Regions from separate parts of the Homo sapiens genome. Here region 1 is linked to region 2. The links come from fine-mapping of genetic effects on gene expression. Tissue or cell type: whole blood. Region 2 holds a variant in brackets; the other region holds the start of a gene. All regions are shown on one strand. Distances are between the middles of the regions.

Region 1 (12,742 bases), 19 kb before region 2:
GTGAGCTATGATTGCTCAGCCATTACACTTCTAGCCTGGGCAACAGAGCGAGACTCTGTCTCAAAAATAAATAAATAAATAAATAAATAAAGTAAATAAAAGAACGTTCCAAAATGTCAGATCTGTGACAGAATATAAAACTATCATAGAATATAGTATTTTGTGGCCAGCCATAGTGGCTCACACCTGTAATCTCAGCACTTTGTGAGGCCGAGGCGGGCAGATCACCTGAGGTCAGGAGTTTGAGAACCGCCTGGCCAACATGGCGAAACCTTGTCTCTACTAAAAATACAAAAATTAGCTCGGCATGGTAGTGAGCTGAGATAGCTTGACCCCTGGGAGACAGAGGTTGCAGTGAGCCAAGATTGCGCCACTGCACTCCAGCCTGGGTGACAGAGCAAGACTCAGTCTCGAAAAAAAAAAAAAATAGCCATTCCCTCTCCCCACCCCAAGTTGTAGTAACAATTTAAGCTCCTGCTCCTATCAGGTGAAGTAGAAATGCCATTAGCTAACACTGCTGAGTCAGTATTTTCTGAGAGGGTAGAAAATTCCTTTATCAGAAGAACACAAAATACTGCTTCTACCCAGGAAGCAATGTATTAAGCAATAGATACATTTATATCCAGAGATTAACAAGGAAAAACTTAAAAATAAAGAGTTAAGGCTCAGATGGATGGAGTGAAAGCCAAGGGTGTTCTGGAAGGATGGAGGAGGGGCATTGGGACTCTCTGTGTAGTGGTCAGTGGAGGGTCTGTGCATTTGCTCCTTGAAGCTTATGCCCCAGCCCGACGGAGACTTCGGGGAAACAATTTTTATTAAAGCAAGGGTAGCAGAATGGGGCAGGAGATGAGGAAGAGACAGTGATTATGTATCTCTATAAAGCTTTATGGCTTCCACAATCTTTTTACATGCATCACCTTGAGCTTTAATATTGTCTTGTCAAGTCACATGGGGAAAATGGTCTTATCTTGATTTTGCAGATTAAGTGACTTCTAGGAGGAAACTTGTCCAGGCCAAACTTGTCCCGTCCTTTGAAGCCTTCCAAGCTTGCTACACCTGGGGCACCATCCAGTTTGCCTGCCCCATTGCCTCCTAGGGAACAAGGGAGCTGAGTTAGATCCTTTTAATCCTGGTGGCGTAGTCAAGCCAAGGCATGGTAGCAGATACATCAATGATTATGAACCAACACAGCAGCTAACTGACCCCAAAGCAAACATTCCTGACATGGCTGTGGCCCAGGGCCTTGTCAATGTCCCCAGGGGAAAATTCCCTCACCAGGATGGGAAAAGTCTCACAACTGTCAGAAGGCATTTGTCCACTGTATTTCTTAGTGTGAAAGAATAAGCTTACTCAATAAATTTTTTTTTTTGAGACAGAGTCTTGCTCTGTCACCCAGGCTGGAGTGCAATGGTGCAATAGCAGCTCACTGCAACCTTCCCCTCCCGGGTTCGAGTGATTCTCAGCCTCCAGAGTAGCTGGGATCACAGGTGTGCACCACCACACCCAGCTAATTTTTCTATTTTTTTTGGCCAGGCTGGTCTTGAACTCTTGGGCTGAAGTGATCCACCTACTTAGGCCTCCCAAAGTGCTGGGATTACAGGTGTGAGGCACTGCACCCGGCCTCAATAAATAACTTTAAAGATTCCTCATCCTTGTCTTTCCAAAAAAATTGGAAAAACAACTTTGGCCGCATCTGCATCCCTTACTTTTCAGAAGAGAGGCTTCCGAGCGAAGAGCGGTGTGTGTACACATCATACCTATTTTTGAACTAACTTACATTATGAGCAATTAAGGAACTTTTTTAAATAAAAGATTTTTAGCCGGGCGCGGTGGCTCACGCCTGTAATCCCAGCACTTTGGGAGGCCGAGGCAGGCGGATCACGAGGTCAGGAGATAGAGACCATCCTGGCTAACACGGTGAAACCCCGTCTCTAGTAAAAAATACAAAAAATTAGCCGGGCGTGGTGGTGGGCGCCTGCAGTCCCAACTACTCTGGAGGCTGAGGCAGGAGAATGGCGCGAACCCGGGAGGCGGAGTTGCAGTGAGCAGAGAGCACGCCACTGCACTCCAGCCTGGGCAACAGAGTGAGACTCTGTTGTCTCAAAAAAAAAAAAAAAAAAAAAAAAGAGAAAAGAAAAAAAGATTTTTATTTCAGATAAAATTAATATTTCCATAATTAGGATACACACATAATTAGCAAACACACATTCTTGAGTCCATTATTTAAGGTTTATTCTATAAACGACTTCCATGAGTATTAGAGATCCTGAATGTCATCTGAATATTTGTCTACACACTTGTGGGCAGCTTCTGTAGACTTTTCTTTGTAGAAATTCCAGTTTTTCTGAATTCTTCCTTTTCCTTCAGGTTTTCCACTTTGCATTATTCATAAAAGGCTGGGTCATTATAGTGAGCTGTTAAGACATTCTTTCAATGCAGAATTTTCTTTCCAGCATTTTACTACCATAAGGATTCCAGAGTTCTTGCAACATTTGGTAAAATCTTGAACTTGTCAGAAGACCTCTCTCTGGCCTTTTCTCTCATTATTTTAGGGATCAAAACATCTTTTTCGACACGTCTGAGCTGCTGCTCCAAAAACCTGTAGTGTCTTCCCATTGTTTTTGGTATAAAAATCAAACTCCTTGAAATGGTTTACAGGACATTTCATGATTCACAACTGAAACTCCTCCACAGCGATGGCACACACTCCTCTTTGATCTCAATTCTTCTTTCTTGTGGTCTTTGCTTAAACCACTGTTCTTTAAATTTCACAGAGCAACCATCAGAGTTGTTAAATTAATCCGCGGGGTCGAGTGCCATCGCGGCGGGCGGAGAAGCAATTAAGGAACTTCTCTAATGAACTTCTGGTGCACAACAAAACCATGTAGTCTCGAAATTTTAGTTCCTCCGCAGTCCCCCATTGTGTTTTATGCTACCCCGCCTTCCACAGTCTCTAGGGACCCCTAACCGACCCCCTTGGCTCTCAGGCCATAATCTCACAACCCTCCCCAGCCCAACGGGGTCCGCCAGCGCTGGGCTGTAATACCACTCGCCACCAGCAGATGCCGCAGCCCCAACGCTGCACAGAGCCAACTTTCAAAATTACCACCGAGCCTGTCGGCAGCCATTTAGTGCCTGCTGTATACTTGCCAAGCGCCACGCAGGGCCCTTCGGGTCAACCCTGTACCAGTTGGCCCAGCTGCGAAATGCGGCGATCGTTAGGGTTAAATTAGTAAAATGGTCTACAGTGCTTTGAACAATGACCGGCTGGTGGTGTGAAATTATTACCAGGCCGAGACCAGCCTGGAGCCGGCTCCTGCCTCGTGCCGTCCCGCAAGGAGGTCCTGCCCCCGGGCTTGCCTTCCAGCCAGTTGGGGCCTTTGCCCTTTTTCCTGTCGCCTGCCACTAAGCTGCTGCTAGGAACCCCGGCTGGAATTTAGCTCGCCTCCGGCAAAGTGGTGGGGGCGGGCCCGGGTCGGGGAGGCCACATCACCTGCTTCCTGCAGGAACTTTTAGAAGGCAGGCAGCCCGGAACATGGCACGGTGGGGCACGGTAGGGCGCGAGGGGCCGCGCCCCTAAGGCCTAAACTCAACATAAAGTTTCTTCTTTGCCCTCCAGCCCAGCCCCAGGGTCGGGGCGCGTTTATCGCGCCGCGCACAAGCGTGAGGAGCGGGGGTTTGCGGGGCCTCTTGACTGTACCTGGGGCTGCACCTGCCAGGAGTGCGGAAAGGCGCAGGGCCGAGGTCCCCAAGCCCAGAGCGGGCGGCAGCTGCGGGCGACCTCGGAGGGCAGAGCAACCTCGGAGGGCAGGGCGTCCCCGCTCCCGGCACGCACCAGTGCCCGCGCACCCCAGCTCGCACGTGGCGCTCGGGCCCCGGCTGCACGCGCACGCGCGCAGGGATGCGCCACGTGCTGGGGCCCCACACGCGGGGAGGCTGCGCTCGGCGAGGGCGCGCGGTCCCACGGGCGGGGAGCCGGGCCCCGCGACCCACCCGCCTCGGGCCACCAGTCCCCTCCCAGCGCCCCGCGTAGCCTGGTCCCGCGCCCGGGCTCCCGGGCTCCCGGGCTGGCACCGCGAGGCGGCGCGCCGGTCGCCCAGGGCCGCCGAGGGGCGGGGCCGCCCGTATTGTTCCTCCCCGAGCGGCTGGCCCTCCCCTTCCCCCAGACCCGGGCGGGGCGCGGGGCCGCCGAAGCCGCGGAACGTGGGCTCGCGCGCCCCGCCTTTGTCTCCCGGGCGCGAGCCGCCGCAGCCCCGCGCCCGCTGCTCGCTGCGGAGCCGTTTTGTGCCGCGGCGCGGGGGAACGGGGACGCGGGGCGGGGGGCGCGGAGCCGGCGGGCGCAGCCTCAGCATGGACGTGACAGTCTCGGAGCTCCTGGAGCTCTTCCTGCAGAGCCCGCTGGTGACCTGGGTGAGTGCGCCTGGCTCCCCGCCCCTTTGTTGGTGCACCGGCTTCTCTCTAGCCCGGCGACGGGACGCCGCAGACCCGACACGGCCGGGGCCCCGGGTGGCTCCGGGGCGCGAGGGACGCAGCAAGTGGCTCCCGGCCGGGGTTGGGGCCGCGTCCTGGAGTCCGGAGCTTTGTAACTCTGGAGCCGGCGCCCCCGTTGTGCGTCCGGCGCGGGACCCCGCCGCGCTTTCGGCCGGGCCAGGAGCCGGGCGGGTACACCTGTTCCCGCTGGGGCTCTAGGCTGGCTGCCTCGGGGCGGACCGGGTCCCAGTGGTCACTCCTGTCCCTGGGGTTTAGCCACTCCCGAAAAGGACCCCATTCTTCCCAACCAAATATCTCATGTAGTTTTTCTGAATCCCTGAGACCAGCCGGTGGATGGCGGTGACGGGTGGGGAATGGGGGGCGCCGAATGGGAAAGCGAACAGACTGGGGTGGGCGCACTGATTTACAATGGATTTGAGACGTGAGACATTTATTGAAAAGTCCTTTTTATTTTTATTTCTTCCGCTCTGGAACGCGGGAGAAAAGTGGCGAGGAAGTTTTTCCTCCTGTCTCGTGTCTGTTGCCCCGCGCGGGGAGGGGAGACAGGCCCTAGGAGAAGGCCGGGCTTGGTGCCTGCTGAAGGGTGGTGTGGGCGTGGGTGACCCCCTTCTGCTCACACTGACCCGTCCAGTCTCTGCCTGGGAGAGCTTTGGACCGTTTGTGCGCACGGGGTGACTTCCTGTCTTTCTCTCCTCGTCCCCCTCCCCGCAGGTGAAAACTTTTGGCCCGTTTGGAAGCGGCAGCCAGGACAACCTGACTATGTACATGGATTTAGTGGACGGCATCTTTTTGAACCAAATTATGCTGCAAATGTAAGTTACCTTCTTCTCGGAGGAAGGAAAGAATGGTGCGTTAGAAAGTTTGAGAGTAGAAATGGAGTGGAAGGTTGCATGGCGGGGTGTGTGTGGGGTGGGGGGTAGTTCTCTGAAGGTGGAGACGCTGGTATCTCAGTATTAACGTGCCTGTTGGACATTCGTAGGTGTTTGAAGAACTCCAGGACAGTGGGTCTGGCAGTTGGTTTGATGAAGGAAATTTGGAATTGAATGACTGTCATTTACGTGGTGTAGATAGTGCAATTGACTTCAGACTCAAGGACTTAATTGTGGTTTGAGCAATGAAATGAAAAAGTCCCCTTTTGGAGGGCAAGGAACTGTAACGGAGAGTGTCTGGTTACAGGAAGTGTCGGGGTGGGCCCAGGCATCCGAGGGTTACTGTAAAGTTTCATTTTAGATGAGGGTGTCTGTGTTTCTGAGCTCCTTTACATTTCATCTTCCTTTTTCAGTTGCCCCAAAGCAAGTGCAATTCATTAAGTCCTACTGTATGGACTGAGTTTAAAGTCACAGTGTTAGGAGGGTCCCATGGTGCTGTTTGTTTGGAAGCATGCAGCCTGAACAGGGTCTTAGTAGAAGTTACTCTTGCCAGCGAGTACATCTGACCACATCCTTTCCTGTTGCTGAGCTCTGCACGGCCTGATTGACAGCTTGCCACAACGTAGGTGTTGGCTTCTACCTTTGCATTCTGTTTTTAACTCAAACTGCAGGGAACATTGGAACTGAGTGTCGGGATGATTCACAGGCACTTGAAGCAAAATAAAACATCCTAATGTTCTCTGTGGATCAGCCTCGTGTGCGCACCTATTCACCTACGACTGAGCAAGTTGTCATACTGGAGCATAAATCTATTAGCTAATGAGAGATCAGCTTCGTTTGTGGCTCACAAAGGCAGAGGAGCAGTTTGCTTTGGCATATCCAGAAAGTGGCTTATATAGATTGCCTTAAACAGCCTGTTTAGAAAAAAATAATTCAAGAACCTTGCTTTTTTTTTTTTTGGAGACGGAGTTTCGCTCTTGTTGCCCAGGCTGGAGTGCAATGGCGTGATCTCAGCTCACCACAACCTCCGCCTCCCGGGTTCAAGCGATTATCCTACCTCAGCCTCCCGAGTAGCTGGGATTGCAGGCATGCGCCACCACGCCCGGCTAATTTTGTATTTTTAGTAGAAATGGGGTTTCTCCATGTTAGGCTGGTCTCGAACTCCCGACCTCAGGTGATCCGCCTGCCTTGGCCTCCCAAAGTGCTGGGATTACAGGCATGAGCCACTGTGGTGCCCGGCCTCCTTTTATTTTAATAAGTCATTTGATGTCATGCTGTTTAATGGTTTTTGCTTTTTTTTTTTTAAAGTTCACAGCTGTGGGTGTAGGAAAAAAAGTCACTACCAATCTTACCAGTCTTCAGTGTCTGATTAGATTGAAAAACATAAATCTGTTGCCAGCTTTGACAGCACTTCTTAGATAACTTTGTTGAAACTGAGTTTTCCGGAAGCTGTCTCGTGGCATATTCGAGTTCTGGCCACTCTCCCCTCATTCTGTTAGACCCTGAAAATTACTGGATTCCATTGGCGCAATGACCGGTGAAACTTCAACCTGTCCTTACCCAAGCCCAAGACTGTTTAATTAAAAAAACCAGCAGTATCCCCAGCCTTTTCATTCAGCTCCTACACCCAGGCAGAGGGGGGAACAAAAGCACTGGGACTGTTTCTCTTTCTTCCCTGACCTTTGGAATTCCTGAAGCGTTTCCCACTTGCTTGTAAATCAGGAAAGCCTGTTGGACCGTTCCTTTGAGAAACGCCAGCTCATCACTTGTTCTCATTTGGCCCATGGCTAAATTCGGCCGGGGTGGTGTGGGGTGGGAGGGTTTCTCCCCTTCCCTGGGCAATTTTAGATGTTCTCTCTGTGATATGCCAAGGTAATCATTCCAGAAGTGGGAACTGGTAAATTGTAGCTCTTAAGACTTCAAGAAGTGCTTCTGGGTCCCTCAGGATGAGTTGGGCACAGAGGAATGGAGCGTGGGGAGGCTGAATGGCTGGCTTTCCAGAATGAGGAAAGAGAAGAGAGAGCGGGTGGGCATGGTTTCCTGCATGGGTCATCAGAATCACCCAGTTCCAGGTGATAGAAGTCAGAATAGTGTTTTTGTGTCTGGAAGTGGTGAGGATTGACTGGAAAGGACCCGGGGGAACCTTTTCAGGGTAGTTGAAATGTCCTGCAGAGTGGCTGGAGTATGTTTCATTTTCCAAAACTCCTCAAATTATAACTTTATGCATTTCATGCTATGTAAAATTACCTCAACTAAACAATGAACCCTGGCCTGTATCGGACAGCCTACATAGCCAGCTGGGATTCAAACCCTTGGCCTCCCTTTTACCAGCAGTGTGACACTGGGCATGTCGCTCAGTGCCTTAGTTTCCTCATCTGTAAAATGGGACGTAAAGTACCTTCCTTAAGAGATGGTTGTGAGGACAGAATGAAACCTTGTGTTAACATTTAGCTATTTGCCTATGTAGGTGCCATCTTAATCCAGAAAGGATTTGAGGCACCAACTAAAAGTTCTTTTTTTGTGTGGCCTACCTTTTCCCCCACATTCTTCGATCCTTGGATTACCCCACAGTTCTCAGCCCTTAGCCCTCTACCAATGAGGTCTAGGGCAACATTGGACCCTGGGACCCAAGTCCTAGCCCCGCATTTAGACTGTACTGCACTTAAGCCTCTGTTTTCACTTCTACCAAATGGCAACATGTCACTAGCCAGCAGGTAAGGGGTAAGGCTGTTCTGCCTCATCTCCCATACCAGTAGCTCCTAGACTGTGCTATTTGCCTGTTTTGATTCCTTCACCCCAAGTTTGTAGGACCTGAAGAAATCGCGTTGAGCAGTACTGCTAACAGAGCTCAGATAAGAGGCTGTTACCTAACACCTGGGAGCCTTGTGGAGGTTGGCTGGGGGTCACGTGACTGCACCTGGCCATTGTCTCCGGCAACCGGAGAAGGCTGTTAGTAGTCTCTCGGCCCTGGTCTCCTGGTGACATCAGCACCTGGAAGCAGGGAAGCCCCACAGGTTCAGCTTTCTGGGGAGGCCCAGGGCTAGGAGAATTCATGAATGAAACTGAGGCTTTGAGTGGCCTGGATGGAGAGGCCTGGGAATGCCTGCTCAATAGCCCCTCTGTCAACACAGTGTCTTGGGTACCTACCAGCACCCAAGAGAAAACAAAGTTTGCTCTGGTTAACTTTGGACACGTTTTTCATTCTCTTGTAGGAAAATTATTTAAGAGCCTTAACCCTAGCATCAGGCAGACAAGTTCAAATCCCCACTCTGCCACTTCCTAGTGTTATTATGTTGGGCAAATGACTGAAACTCTCTAAGCCTTGATTTCCTGATCTGTAATAAGGGGATGGTATTTTACCAATTTGGGGGAGATTTAAATAAAACTATGTATATAGAACAAGCCTAACATATGTCTATCATTGTGCAGATGAGGCCCAGATCTGAGTTTGTGTGTGGACATACGTACGTGTACCCATGCCCTTAGTGCTGTACATCTCTACTTGTGAGAGTAAACCATCCGGTTTGACGCAGTGGCTAAAGTTGGAACTTGGTACTAGGGCTGAGAGCTTGTGCCCTTTAAGTTCAACCATATTTGTTCAGGCTGCTTGTGACCCCTGGTGCTAGCTGCAAAATTCAGGATACTGTGTTAATTATTCATAGGTTAGAAACATCCTCGGGGAAATAGGAGAGTTTCTTTACCTCCCAAAAAGCATTTGAAGGATAACTTTTACCCCAGTGCACTTGAAGGAGAGTTTATGTTTCCCTTTTGCAGATGTAGAAGCTTAGGATAAAAGGGGAAATTTTACTTGTTGGTTGAATGAATTTGTATTGGCGCAAAAATCTTGGGAAAAAACAATTTTTACCTATGAACTTAAGTAATTTCCATCTTTTGGCTGCAGTATATGACACATGGGGGCTTTGAGTCCTTAAAAATTATACAAACAGGCTGGGCACGGTGGCTCACGCCTGTAATGCCAGCACTTTGGGAGGCTGAGGTGGGCGGATCACAAGGTCAGGAGATCGAGACCATCCTGGCTAACACAGTGAAACCCCGTCTCTACTAAAAATACAAAAAAATTAGCCAGGCGTGGTGGCGGGCGCCTGTAGTCCCAGCTACTGAGGAGGCTGAGGCGGGAGAATGGCATGAACCCGGGAGGCAGAGCTTGCAGTGAGCCAAGATTGTGCCACTGCACCCAGCCTGGGCAACAGAGCCAGACTCCATCTCAAAAAAAAAAAAAGAAAAAAATACACAAACTATGTTCATCTTAGGAGAATAGGAATATATACAGATGAGCAAAATAAAACTTGCCTGTGATTTTACCATGTGGAGGTAGCAATGTCAATATTCTAGTGCCTTCCGAATGTTATCTATGATATATATTAATACGTGTCCTTAATGTATTAATATTTTTATACAAATATGGACTCTTGCTATTGTTTTTTAGCATGGGTCCATATTTGTATAAAAATACATTAAACATATATAAAAACATTTAGCATGTTTTTTAACCTGTGATAAATTAGGGATATCTCTCTGTGTCAATACATAGTTTCTTGATTTAGCTTTAAATTTAGGAAGTTTTTGGAATATGACCAAAAGTTGGGGGCTGGCTTTCCCAAAGGAGGGGGGCAAGGTTACTGTAAGCCTAAATTATAACTCTTTTTAAAATTCTAGCAAGAATTGGTTATCTTTCTTCTTCCTTTTTTTTTTTTTTTGAGATGGAGTCTCACTCTGTTGCACAGGCTGGAGTGTAGTGGCTTGATCTCTGCTCATTGCAACCTCTGCCTCCCAGGTTCAGGTGATTCTCCTGCCTCAGCCTCCCGATTAGCTAGGATTACAGGCGCATGCCACCATGTCTGGCTAATTTTTGTATTTTTAGTGGAGACAGGGTTTCACCATGTTGGCCAGGCTGGTCTCGAACTCCTGACCTCAAGTGATCCTCTCACCTCGGCCTCCCAAAGTGCTGGGGTTACAGGCATGAGCCATCGTGCTTGGCCAGTTTCTTTTTTTCTAGTTGGAAGTTTTTATGAAAAGGAATCCCTGGGGGCCCACACTTTAGACTTGGAACTCTTGGAACTCTCCAAGTTCCGACCAGCTACCATATTTATGTCGTGTCCTCTGAGATCCTGATACTAGAGTGTTGGCCTTTTAAGTTTTAGGACTATCATATAAAGATGATTGTTGTTCTGAATGACAACTTTTGGGGAAGTGCAGTTGTTTAGCGGTTATAATAACATCTTCCTGTGGTACAGAAGCAAGTACAGTCCACGTTTGCTACTGCAGATGTAGGCTTCATGGAACCATATAGACTTTGAAGGCCGGAAGGATCCTGTAGCCATTTTGCAGATGAGAACACTGAAGCCCAGTGAGCTTTGGCTGGGCTTGGGACCTGGGCTAGAACCCATGTCTCTTGATTCCCATTTTGTACAGCATGGAAAGGTGGGAGTTACGGGGGTGCTGGGCAGAGTGGAGATTGAGATGTGCCTGCCTTAACTGTAGTTGAGGCTTTTGTTTTGATTAGTGTCCTGATAGCTCTCTACCCAGAGAGGCTTAGTTAAAGGAGGGAGTCGTAATAATCACGGTAAGTAGCTTAATTACTCATACAGTAAATGTCAGGGTTCTTTTAGAGTTGTTTCAGTGAGCTATTTCTTGCAAGAACTGGGGAGAACAATAGCAGGGATGGTCAGAGGCTTCTATGCTGTGATGTGAGGGGACTCCCAGGTTCCCGACCCTGAGTGTATGCTATGCCTTTGCACGTGCTGGAGATGTCCACGATGTATACTGAGGCTTTCGGCTCCTGGCCACTCCTGGGGTGGTCCCGTCTGACTTCAATGAAAGATGGGTCTACAATGACAAAGACCAAAGAAAGAAGAAACAAAACAGAAAAAGCGCTGCATGTTCTCTGAGTTCTGCTATTTTAAGAAGTGCATTTGTCACTGTGAAATTGATTTTCATCTTTTAAGGTATCTACAGTAAAGGGAGGGGAATTGTACCTTTAAGATAAATTACTTTATGCTGCCAGGAACACTTCTGTAGCTAAAAATGCCTTTGCAGTTTAAATTCTGAATGCCTCTTCTTTTCCTGAATTAATTTCCACAGAACTCTTAACCTTTATTTTCTCAGTTATGCATGACTCCAAGAGAAACATGTAACATGTAAATGACTTGGCCACACTCCATCACTGTACTTCCAGAAACATTTGAAACGTTTTCGATTTGTAGGGTTTTTTTTTCCTTTGTCAATTTTCTACTAATTATTGGCTTTGAATGAGCCAGATGGCATTGAGATTGATTTCCTTAACTCCCCACACTAACCCCCAAGAGGCTCAGCACCTTCATCACGGGGTCTGGATAACAGAAGAAACTGTGAAGACAGGCTCTCCTTTGAATTAGCCATCCTTTGCGGTGTCTTGGGACTGTCAGATGGAAGGGAGGCCTTTGTTATGAAAAGCAGCGCACAGTCTGTGGAAGGGTGGAAGCGAACTCAGTAATGCTGAGTGCTCTTGTCTAATGGGGAACGTTTTCTGACACTGAGCATTTTGAGAAATGTCCTGTATATAGATGAGGGAGGGACATGATACATCACTTGATGTAGATTTCTAGTTTCATCACAGCCAGACCCAACTTTTGCCTGAGGTTGGAAAATAAATGACACTTCGGGGATTCCCCACATGAATTAATTGTGTCTCTTAGCATTTCTTACAGGGTGCATTGTACACCATAGAGTGCCATAGATTGTTTATGCCAGTTTCTCAAGATAGGATTTTTGTCCCTGGAATTTGTAAATCACAGGGAGGACCAGCCCAAGACCAATTCGCATGACAGAGGGAGACCTGTGTTTAATGGAACATTATGATTTTATTGGCGAATTAAGTCAGAAAATGTACCATTTTGGCCTGGCACAGTGGCTCACACCTGTAATCCCGGCACTTTGGGAGGCCAAGGCGGGTGTCACTTGAGGTCAAGAGTTCGAGACCAGCCTGGCCAACATGGTGAAACCCTGTCTTTACTAAAAATACAAAAATTAGCTGGGCGTGGTGGCATGCACCTATAATCCCAGCTACTTGGGAGGCTGAGGTGGGAGAATCGCTGGAACCCAGGAGGTGAAGGTTGCAGTGAGCTGAGATCGTGCCACTGCCCTCCAGTCTGGGCAAAAGAGCAAGACTCCGTCTCAAAAAAAAAAAAAAAGAAATGTACCGTTTTAGGCTGGGCACAGTGGCTCACACCTGTCATCCCAGTGTTTTGGGGGTCTGAGGCAGGAGGATGGCTTGAGGAGTTCGAGACCAGCCTGGGCAACATAGTGAGACCCTGTCTCTATAAAAAAAATTAAAAAAAAATTAGCTGGGCCTGTAGTCCTAGCTGCCTGGGAGGCTGAGACAG
Region 2 (8,000 bases):
GTTAAAATGCAGCTATTTTAACAAATTGCTATTGCATGCTGAAGATTCTCGAGTCCCTGCCAGGCGGTGAGGTCCTGAGGTTGTGTTTGCAATGTCTGGGTGGACTTCGTTTTTGTTGGAGGATCTTGAGTGCCTTTTGGGGATCTCTCCAGCAGGACTGCCTGAGGGAATCGTAGTGGGGTTAGAGAACAAGGCAGCCATTAGGGGCAGGGCCTGGCTGTGGCCGGGAGTCCAGCTCTGGCCTGGGCTCTGTCCCCATGTCGGCAGCGGGAGCTTTTGTGGACCCAACCATCCGGAGGTCACAGTCAGCTTCCATGTGAAGGTTTGCAGTCCGTTCAGAATTCAAGAGCGAACCCTCCAGACTGCTGGGAGATGTGCCTGAGGAGGGCAATGGTCTGCGGGGGGTCCCCCGTCCTCCTCCCGATCCCCATTCCCTAGCTAGAGCTTGTATAATAGAAGAAGGAAATGCAGGATGTGGAAGCTCTGGTGGCCCCCAGGTGGGTGGGACTTGACAGGTTACCGGCTCTTCCTCTTTCTGTTTCTCTTTCTTGTCCTCTCCATGCCCGAGATGCTCACGTTTTGTGGGGTGGGAGAGTGGCCAGGTAAATCAGCTGCAATAACACCTGTGTACGCAGGACATGGGATATGGCCAGACACAGGCCTGGGGAGCAGGGATCCTGGAGAGCTTTCTCGGGGGAAATGTCTGCCTGCGGCTGGTGGGGTTGACTGGCAGGGAAGGGGTGTCCTCTGGGGAAGAGCGGCACCTGCAGAGCTTTGGAGACATAAAGCAGCCTGAAGGTTGGGGCGTCTCTTGCGGGTATGGGGGTGAGGCTCCAGGCTGTGCTTAGGTGCTTAGGGATCTCAACTACTTCTTCTTCTTCTTCTTTTTTTTTTTTTTTTTTGAGAGGGAGTCTCACTCTGTCGCCCAGGCTGGAGTGCAGTGGCGCGATCTCGGCTCACTGCAACCTCTGCCTCCTGGGTTCACATGATTCTCCTGCCTCAGCCTCCTGAGTAGCTGGGATTACAGGCACCTGCCATCATGCCTGGCACATTTTTTGTATTTTTAGTAGAGACGGGGTTTCACCGTGTTGGCCAGGCTGGTCTTGAACTCCTGACCTCAGATGATCCACCTGCCTCGGCCTCCCAAAGTGCTGGGATTACAGGCGTGAGCCACTGAGCCTGGCCTAGGAACCTGAACTTCTAAAAGAGAGAGCTTAGGAAAGAAAACTCCTGCTCCCATTTGGAGAATGCACAGGTGTTGGGAGGGGTTGGCAGGTGGCAGGGCCCTGGACTGTGGCCACGGCAGCAGAGAGAAGGACGAGCTCTAGGAGACTCTATGGGGATCCAGCCCAGATGTGGGAATCCAGGGCTGAGGGGTCCGTGGGTTCCTGGTGTGACTTGGGGTTGGGGCGTTGGTGCTGTTCTCTGGGTGGGCCTGGGGCTCTGGGTGAGGAGAAGTGGGCTTAGTGGGGAGCAAGCCAGCTTGGTGTCACTGGTGTCGGTCAGGTGGATCTGAGCGTTCCTGGCTGGGAATGCAGATGGGAGCCATGGGGAGGTTGGCTCAAGAGTCACAAGCAGGCATGGAGAATGAGAACTGCCCATGGCCAAGGAGGTGGGAGCAGGCCCCAGGGTTAGGGCTGGGCAGAGCACATGGGACTCCCCAAGATGACAGTGAGGAGTCCCCCAAGTGGGAGGACCAGAGGGAGAGTGGTCCGCAGAGAGGAGAACCCCTGAGGAGAGAGGGCACCAGCACACAGGGCTGCCCGAGGCCCAGGAGACCACTCAGCTGTGGGCGGCTCAGTGCCCACCTGGAGCAAGCACCCTAGAGGAGCAGGAACAGCCGTCTGGGCCGAGGAAAGCCATGCTCTGCAGCAGACCTGTGCGCCCCCAGGGCTGCAGGCTGCTGGCAGTAGCTTCCTGATCAGCCAGACAAGAGGGCTGCAGCTCTCAGGGCCACTAGAATCACCCTTTCCACACTTAACAAAAGGCCTGCACTCCCAGCCTGTGGTGCTCCCTGTCCTGCTGGCTCCTGCTGCTTGTATTTCTTTCAATTATTTATTTTACCTTTTTATTTATTTATTTTTGAGACAGGGTCTCACTCTGTCACCCATGCTGGAGTGCAGTGGCGCGATCATAGCTCATTGTAACCTCAAACTCCTGGGCTCAAGCAATCCTCCAGCCTCAATCTACCAAGTAGCTGGGACTACAGGTGTGCACCACCATGCCCAGCTAATTATTTTTGTATTTTTTGTAGAGATGGGGTCTCACTGTGTTGGCCAGGCTACTCAAACTCCTGGGCTCAAGCGATCCTCCTGCCTTGGCCTCCCAAGGTGTTGGGGTTACAGGCGTGAGCCACCATGCCAGCCAGTGTTGGTGTTACAAGCTCAGTGGTTCAACTGTTGGCCAGGGGTGAAGCAAACGGGCTGAGGACCTGGTGGTGTGCTGAACGCCCAAACCTCTTGGGAGGCAGATTTGGTTTCTGTAAGCTGTTAGAGTGCCAGTTGGACTTGTTTTCCTTTCTTTTCTCTCCTTTTTGTTGTCAGAAGAAATGCTGTCCAGGCATATCAGATAGCAGCGAGGAACTGTGGGACTCAGATCTGTGCCCAAATCAAAAGGCTGAGAGATGAATGGGAGGGAGCTTAACCTTTACTGAGTGCCCATGCTGGGGGCTTTAGAGCCTCGTCATTTTTCACTGTTACTTCGGTATTATAAAGAAGAAATTACTGTCTCCATTCGATAGATTAGGAAACCAAGGCTCATGGAGCAAGATCAGGAAACAGCCCCGGAAAGCTGCAAGTTTTCTTCATCATCAGCTGCTTGGAGAAGCTTCTTTCTAAAAGCCAGGCTTTCTAGAATCATGTAGGGAGGTAACTTGCTGCAGGTGGACGTGCTGTCCTGTAAAGGCTGGCAGGGCCAGTCAGGATCTGCACCCGCAGTGGGGTGGGGGTGCTGCGTGTGGTGTGCCCCCCAGCTGGGAGTGTGGGCTCCCGTGATAACCCGGCTTCACACCAGCCTGGAGCCCAGAGGAAGGGACCGGGTTGCTTCAGGCACCTCTGAAACTTCCGGGGTTGGGC[G/A]GAGGGTGGAACAGGGAGCAGCTGGCCTCAGACTTCACCCCTCACCCCAGAGCGGCAGGAAGCAGAGATTCAGGGTTAATTGCAGGTGTTGCAGAGGGCGAAAGGTGGGTTTGATGTAATTAGCAGAGTTGGAGTTCAGCCAGGGCAAGGAGATGGAGAGAATGTGTGTGTGTGAGTATGAGTGTGAGAGTGTGTGAGTGTGAGAGTGTGTGTGAGTGTGTGTGTGTACACAGTCTTTCTGTTCTCTGAGGCTTCCTTCTCTAGGACTTGAGTCAAGACCTTGATTTGCTGGGGCTTTTCTCCTGTTTCAGGAGCGGCCATCATTTCCTCAGCCTTTGCGGGAAGGAGGTTTGGCTCAGGAGTCTTGCTTTCACTCCTGGTGTTGGGGATGCCACCCAGGCCCCTGTGGCTGTCCCCTTGCCTGGGCCTGTTGGGCACAGCACCGAGCCCAGATGCTCAGAACATGCAGCCTCACAGGGTCTGCTTGGAGACCTGCCCACCTCTGGACATTGACACATCGGGACTTCCCCCAGGCCCCTCTCCCTCCCCTATTGGTGTTTGTTCCAGAATCATGTTTCTGATACAGGTTATCTTACCATGTCAAGTATTGATTTTTTCACCGTTTGCTCAAGTTTTTTTCTTTCTTTCTTTTTTTTTTGGTGACAGGGTCTTGCTCTGTGTAGCCCAGGCTGGAGTGCAGTGGTGCGATCACGGCTTACTGCAGCCTCGACCTTGACCTGCCAGGCTCAAGCAATCCTCCTGCCTCAGCCCCCCGAGTAGCTGGGACTACCAGCATGCACCACCACTTCTGGCTAATTTATGTTTCTGATTTTTTGTAGAGACAGAGTCTCCCTGTGTTGCCCAGGCTGGTCTCGAACTCCTGAAGTTGTTTCTTAATTCATGGCCATTTATTTACAGAGATGTGTGTTTATGAGCCCATCTTGGGGAGCACAAAGTAAGCAACAAAGCTTCTGGGAGTGGAAGCTGAGTGATCCCCTGATCGGAGGGCAAGGGGTCTGAATTTGTGCTTCCGGAAAAATTATGGCTGAAACGATGAATGTTAAGCTTGCAGAAGCCGCGAGTGAGCTGTGCTTGGTGTTCCCGGTGCTTGTCGGGCTCATTCTTAGTTAGCTCTCGTTCAGCTCCGATTGAAAGCTGCACTTGTGGGTGATGAGTGTTGTGGGAATCGAGTGATGCGGGCGTGAATGAAGGTTGGAAACACAGCTCACTTTATGGACATACCCTAAACGCCAAAGTGGGAGGAAGTGGCAGGAGGAACCAGTTCCTTTTGTGACAGAAAGGAGAGAAATGGATTTCTCAAGTCGTTAAAAAGAAAAAACAGAGGTTTCTCCTTTGCCTTGGGTTTGGTGTTAGATGCCAGGATCAGCATGTTTGATGTTCTCACTGGTTTGTCAAAAGGAGTTTCTGAAGAAGAACTTGCCCAGGCAGGCTCTGCCTCTCCGTGAAGCCGGCTGCGTGGCTCACCTCCAGGGCTCGTAACAGTTTTTGTTATTCAGCTCTTCTTTGGGGAATGGCAGAGATTCTCTGCTGCTTCGCCTTGGCATCCAGGGCCCCTTGATCCTTCGAGATGTAATTGTCGCGATATAATTGTCGTCTTATTTTTCTAGTAATGAGAGGAATGTCGAGGGAAGGAGGATGAGGAAGTGCTGGTCTTAAATTGGTGGTTTCAGCCAGTACTGTAAAAGTTGAAGGGGCCGCACTCTGTACCCCCAGTTCTGAGTTGGTGGTATTTAGGGGGGAGGCAGAGATTTCAGATAAAGAGTCAAGGCTGCCACGTTCCACTGGGAGGGTTCTATTGGTTTGGGATTGGGTTTCGGGGAGGCTAAGGGTTGAGGGGTGGTAATTCTACATGTAGGGGTGTTCTGTAGGGGAAGAGATGGGGCACACTGCAGCTCTAGGGAGAAGCCTCTGGTTGCTTTCCTTAGCTGCAGCTGGGCAATCCTGGCCTGGGGGCTGGTGGCCTGGGGAGGGAGCAGGCAGGTTTGCCTTCTCGGCTGGGGGATAACGTTAGCCACTGCCTGGTGGAAGTGGGTGAGCCAGCTCTGTGGGGTGACTTCTTTGGTTACCCGAAGGCCAGAAAAGTGAAGCCAGAGAACAAGGTGGAATGGGAGGTGGGAAGGCAGGAATGATGAGAGCTCTGCCACTGTGTCAGCTTGGGTCCCTGAACGCTTTCCCTGGTCCAGAAGCTTGTGTTCACTGTTCCCAGCAGTGTGACTTAGGGTGCATCGTCCAACCTCACCTGTAGAGCAGGGGTAAAAATTACCTTATAGGTGGTTGTGAGGCTCAAATGAGATCACAAGACGTTTCTTTAATCAGTGAATAATAATAGCGACAGCTCTGGGTCCCAGGCTGACTCTGCAGGGGACGTACTTGTTCACCTGTATTCTGCAGGCGGAGGGGGCAGTTACTTGCAGGTAGGGGTCTTGGGAGGCAGGAGACACAAATCCAAATAGAAATGGAAAAACAACCAAGAGCCTCACCATCTGCAGAGGCACAAGGTCGAATGGTGGGTTCCTTTGAGCGTACCCCTCAGATTTGTGGCCTTGGGTAAGTTACTTCATCTCTGAGAGTCTTTCTTATTTGAAAAGTGGAGATATTAATAGTGCCAGCCTGGGAGGGTTGTAGGAGGGGTTCTACAAAGGCCTTGTACTCAGGGGACACGTGGGTGGGAGGGGAGGATGCCCACCCGTCTGGCAGAGGGGTGGCAGGCAGGCCCCCCACCCAAGGCCCGTCCCCTGGCCACTCTGTGTTCATTTGTTACTGAGCGGATTATCCAAGGACCCCTCCCGGAGTAATGCGCTCTGATTCATTTGGATTAATCTTGCGAGTGTGCACGTGTGCCTGTCTCTAGCCCTGCACGTTTTTCTCCTGTATGATCGTTTTATTTTAAGCTGAGTGACTTACACATATTATCTCATCAAAGGAAGCCTCATGATTTTATCCCTCACCAGCAATAGAATTCCTTAAAAGCAGGCACTGAATCTTTCTGTTTGTCTGTCACACCAGCATGGAAATGTGTCTGCCGTCAGTCAGCATGTGTTAATGACAAGATACATAACAACGGAGGCCACCATTCAGTGGAGTAAATAATTCAGAGAATAAGTCATTACAATCAGGGAGCACGGTGTCACACCAGGCCTGGGCCGGGAATCCTGTCTCTAGGTTAAAATGACCCTGCAAAGTGCCCCCGACCTGCTGCCCTTTCTAGACTGTTGAATAATTAGAGGATGGGGCCTGCCTTGTTCCTCTGTGTCCCTGACACATGGCAGGGACCCAGACCCTGACTGTTTAGAGGGTAAACAGGGGTAAACCGGTATGGAGGTGCAATGCAGTGAGGGGGCTGGGCTGGAGCTTAGGGCTCCCCTACTGTTTTCACGCAGACCTGTAGGCTTTTCATGTGGTGTTTGCTTTGTTGATGGAAATGCCATATGTCAGGTACTGGGAGGCTCAGTCCCTGGGGGGTGGAAATTAAATTGATTGTTTTCAACTTTGTCTAGCCAGCTTGGCTCCCCTGAGCATTCTAAGGTTTAGGCTGAATGACTTTAAAATTTTAAGACTAAAATTTTTGCCTCCTTTCCAAACCTTAGTAACCAGACAGGCTCACCTTCTGCCCAGCAAGTCAGATTTACGTGCCTTTAAAGTGTGGAATTGTGGCTACTTAAAGGACAGAAACTCCGGAGCAGCTGGCACTTTTTGTGCTCAATTGGTCTTCTAGCACCCTGTTTTTAGGGTGAGAATTTGTGGCATTCAGATTTTACGGAGTAGAGCTCATGAAGTTGATTTCTTTTTTTTGAGACGGAGTCTCGCTCTGTCGCCCAGGCTGGAGTGCAGTGGTGCGATCTCGGCTCACTGCAACCTCTGTCTCCCAGGTTCAAGCAATTCTCCTGCCTCAGCCTCCTGAGTAACTGGGATTACAGGCATGGGCCACCATGCCCGGCTAATTTGGTATTTTTTAGTAGAGATGGGGTTTCACCATGTTGGACAGGCTGGGAAGTTGAATATTTCAGGTGGAAATGGACTAAGTTGCAGAGGCGAGTATCCCAAGCTTAGATGCCAGAAGAAGGAAGCGTTGGTGGTTTCTGAGAACTCTGGGCTATTTTGATAACCACCTGGGGCAGTTAATCCAAAACAGGTAGTCCAGACCTTCAGAGGAAGCCAGATCGGGGCTGAGGTGTGGGCCGTCTGGGAGGGCGCTTCTGTCTGTACCCCTTCTCCTACCTTGCCCTTGTTTCTTCCTTCGGGAGGTAGAATTCGCTCAGGTTGCCTCTGCCTCATCTGCCCCTCTGCCTGCAGGGCTGGGGGTTTAGGGGGTGGGGGGGCTCCCATCCTACTTGCGGACAGAATAGCTGGCACCTGGACCTGTCATCTCCCAGCTCAGCCTCTCCCGGGGCAGCTCCTCTTGTCCTCCAGGGCTGCCCTGACACTGGTGTGACCTGGGGCAAGCGGCCCAACCCCTCCTAGCCTGTTCCTCTTTTGTCAGATGGGGGTGATGACTGCACTCCCCTCCCTGGGTTGCAGTGATTCTGAGAGAGCCAGTGAGCGATTGGTGCCTGGGAAATGCCCAGCCCAGTGCCCAGGGGCCGTTTCCGGGAGCGGACTCCGGTACTGTCTCTCCCTCTCCCGCTGCCTCACACGTCCTGTCCTTGCAGTTTCTCCTTCCCCAGCACCTTTCCTTTTTCGCTATGTGAGGCCTTGAGGACTCTCTGGAATTTAACATCATTATCGCCGTCATCACACCCCTGGCCCTGACTTGTTTTCTCTGTGTCCCACCCTACATTGCAGACTCACTCAGGGCGGGGACTCCGGCAGCCTCTGCCTCTCCCAGGAAGTGCAGTGAGGGGGCTCAGTGAGAGTGAGGGGTGCAGTGAGAGTGAGGGGCGCGGTGAGAGTGAGGGGCGTGGTGAG

Evidence for each region. PIP is the estimated chance that this variant, and not a neighbour inherited with it, causes the effect.
Region 1: it holds the start of CCDC88C, and the variant in region 2 is fine-mapped to the expression of CCDC88C in whole blood (INTERVAL, PIP above 0.99).

What each region holds. Positions count from the first base shown.
Region 1 is chr14:91,409,299-91,422,040 of GRCh38, reverse strand. It overlaps CCDC88C (coiled-coil domain containing 88C), which reads left to right and starts at 4,221. Exons shown (of 30, transcript NM_001080414.4): 1 at 4,221-4,410; 2 at 5,203-5,303. The coding sequence starts at 4,351. It overlaps CCDC88C-DT (CCDC88C divergent transcript), which reads right to left and starts at 3,795. Exons shown (of 3, transcript NR_184261.1): 1 at 3,701-3,795; 2 at 918-1,092. It also overlaps the pseudogene LOC112268126. RefSeq lists enhancers at 2,806-2,855, 3,096-3,740, 5,346-5,635, 5,646-5,775, 6,166-6,295 and 2 more and a silencer at 3,806-4,725.
Region 2 is chr14:91,392,741-91,400,740 of GRCh38, reverse strand. All of the region lies in intron 3 of CCDC88C (coiled-coil domain containing 88C), which reads left to right. It overlaps LOC105370624 (a long non-coding RNA gene), which reads left to right and starts at 542. Exons shown (of 2, transcript XR_944148.3): 1 at 542-602. RefSeq lists enhancers at 1-357, 198-557, 918-977, 1,619-2,250, 2,344-2,413. The variant G/A (reference allele first, on the strand shown) is at 3,075.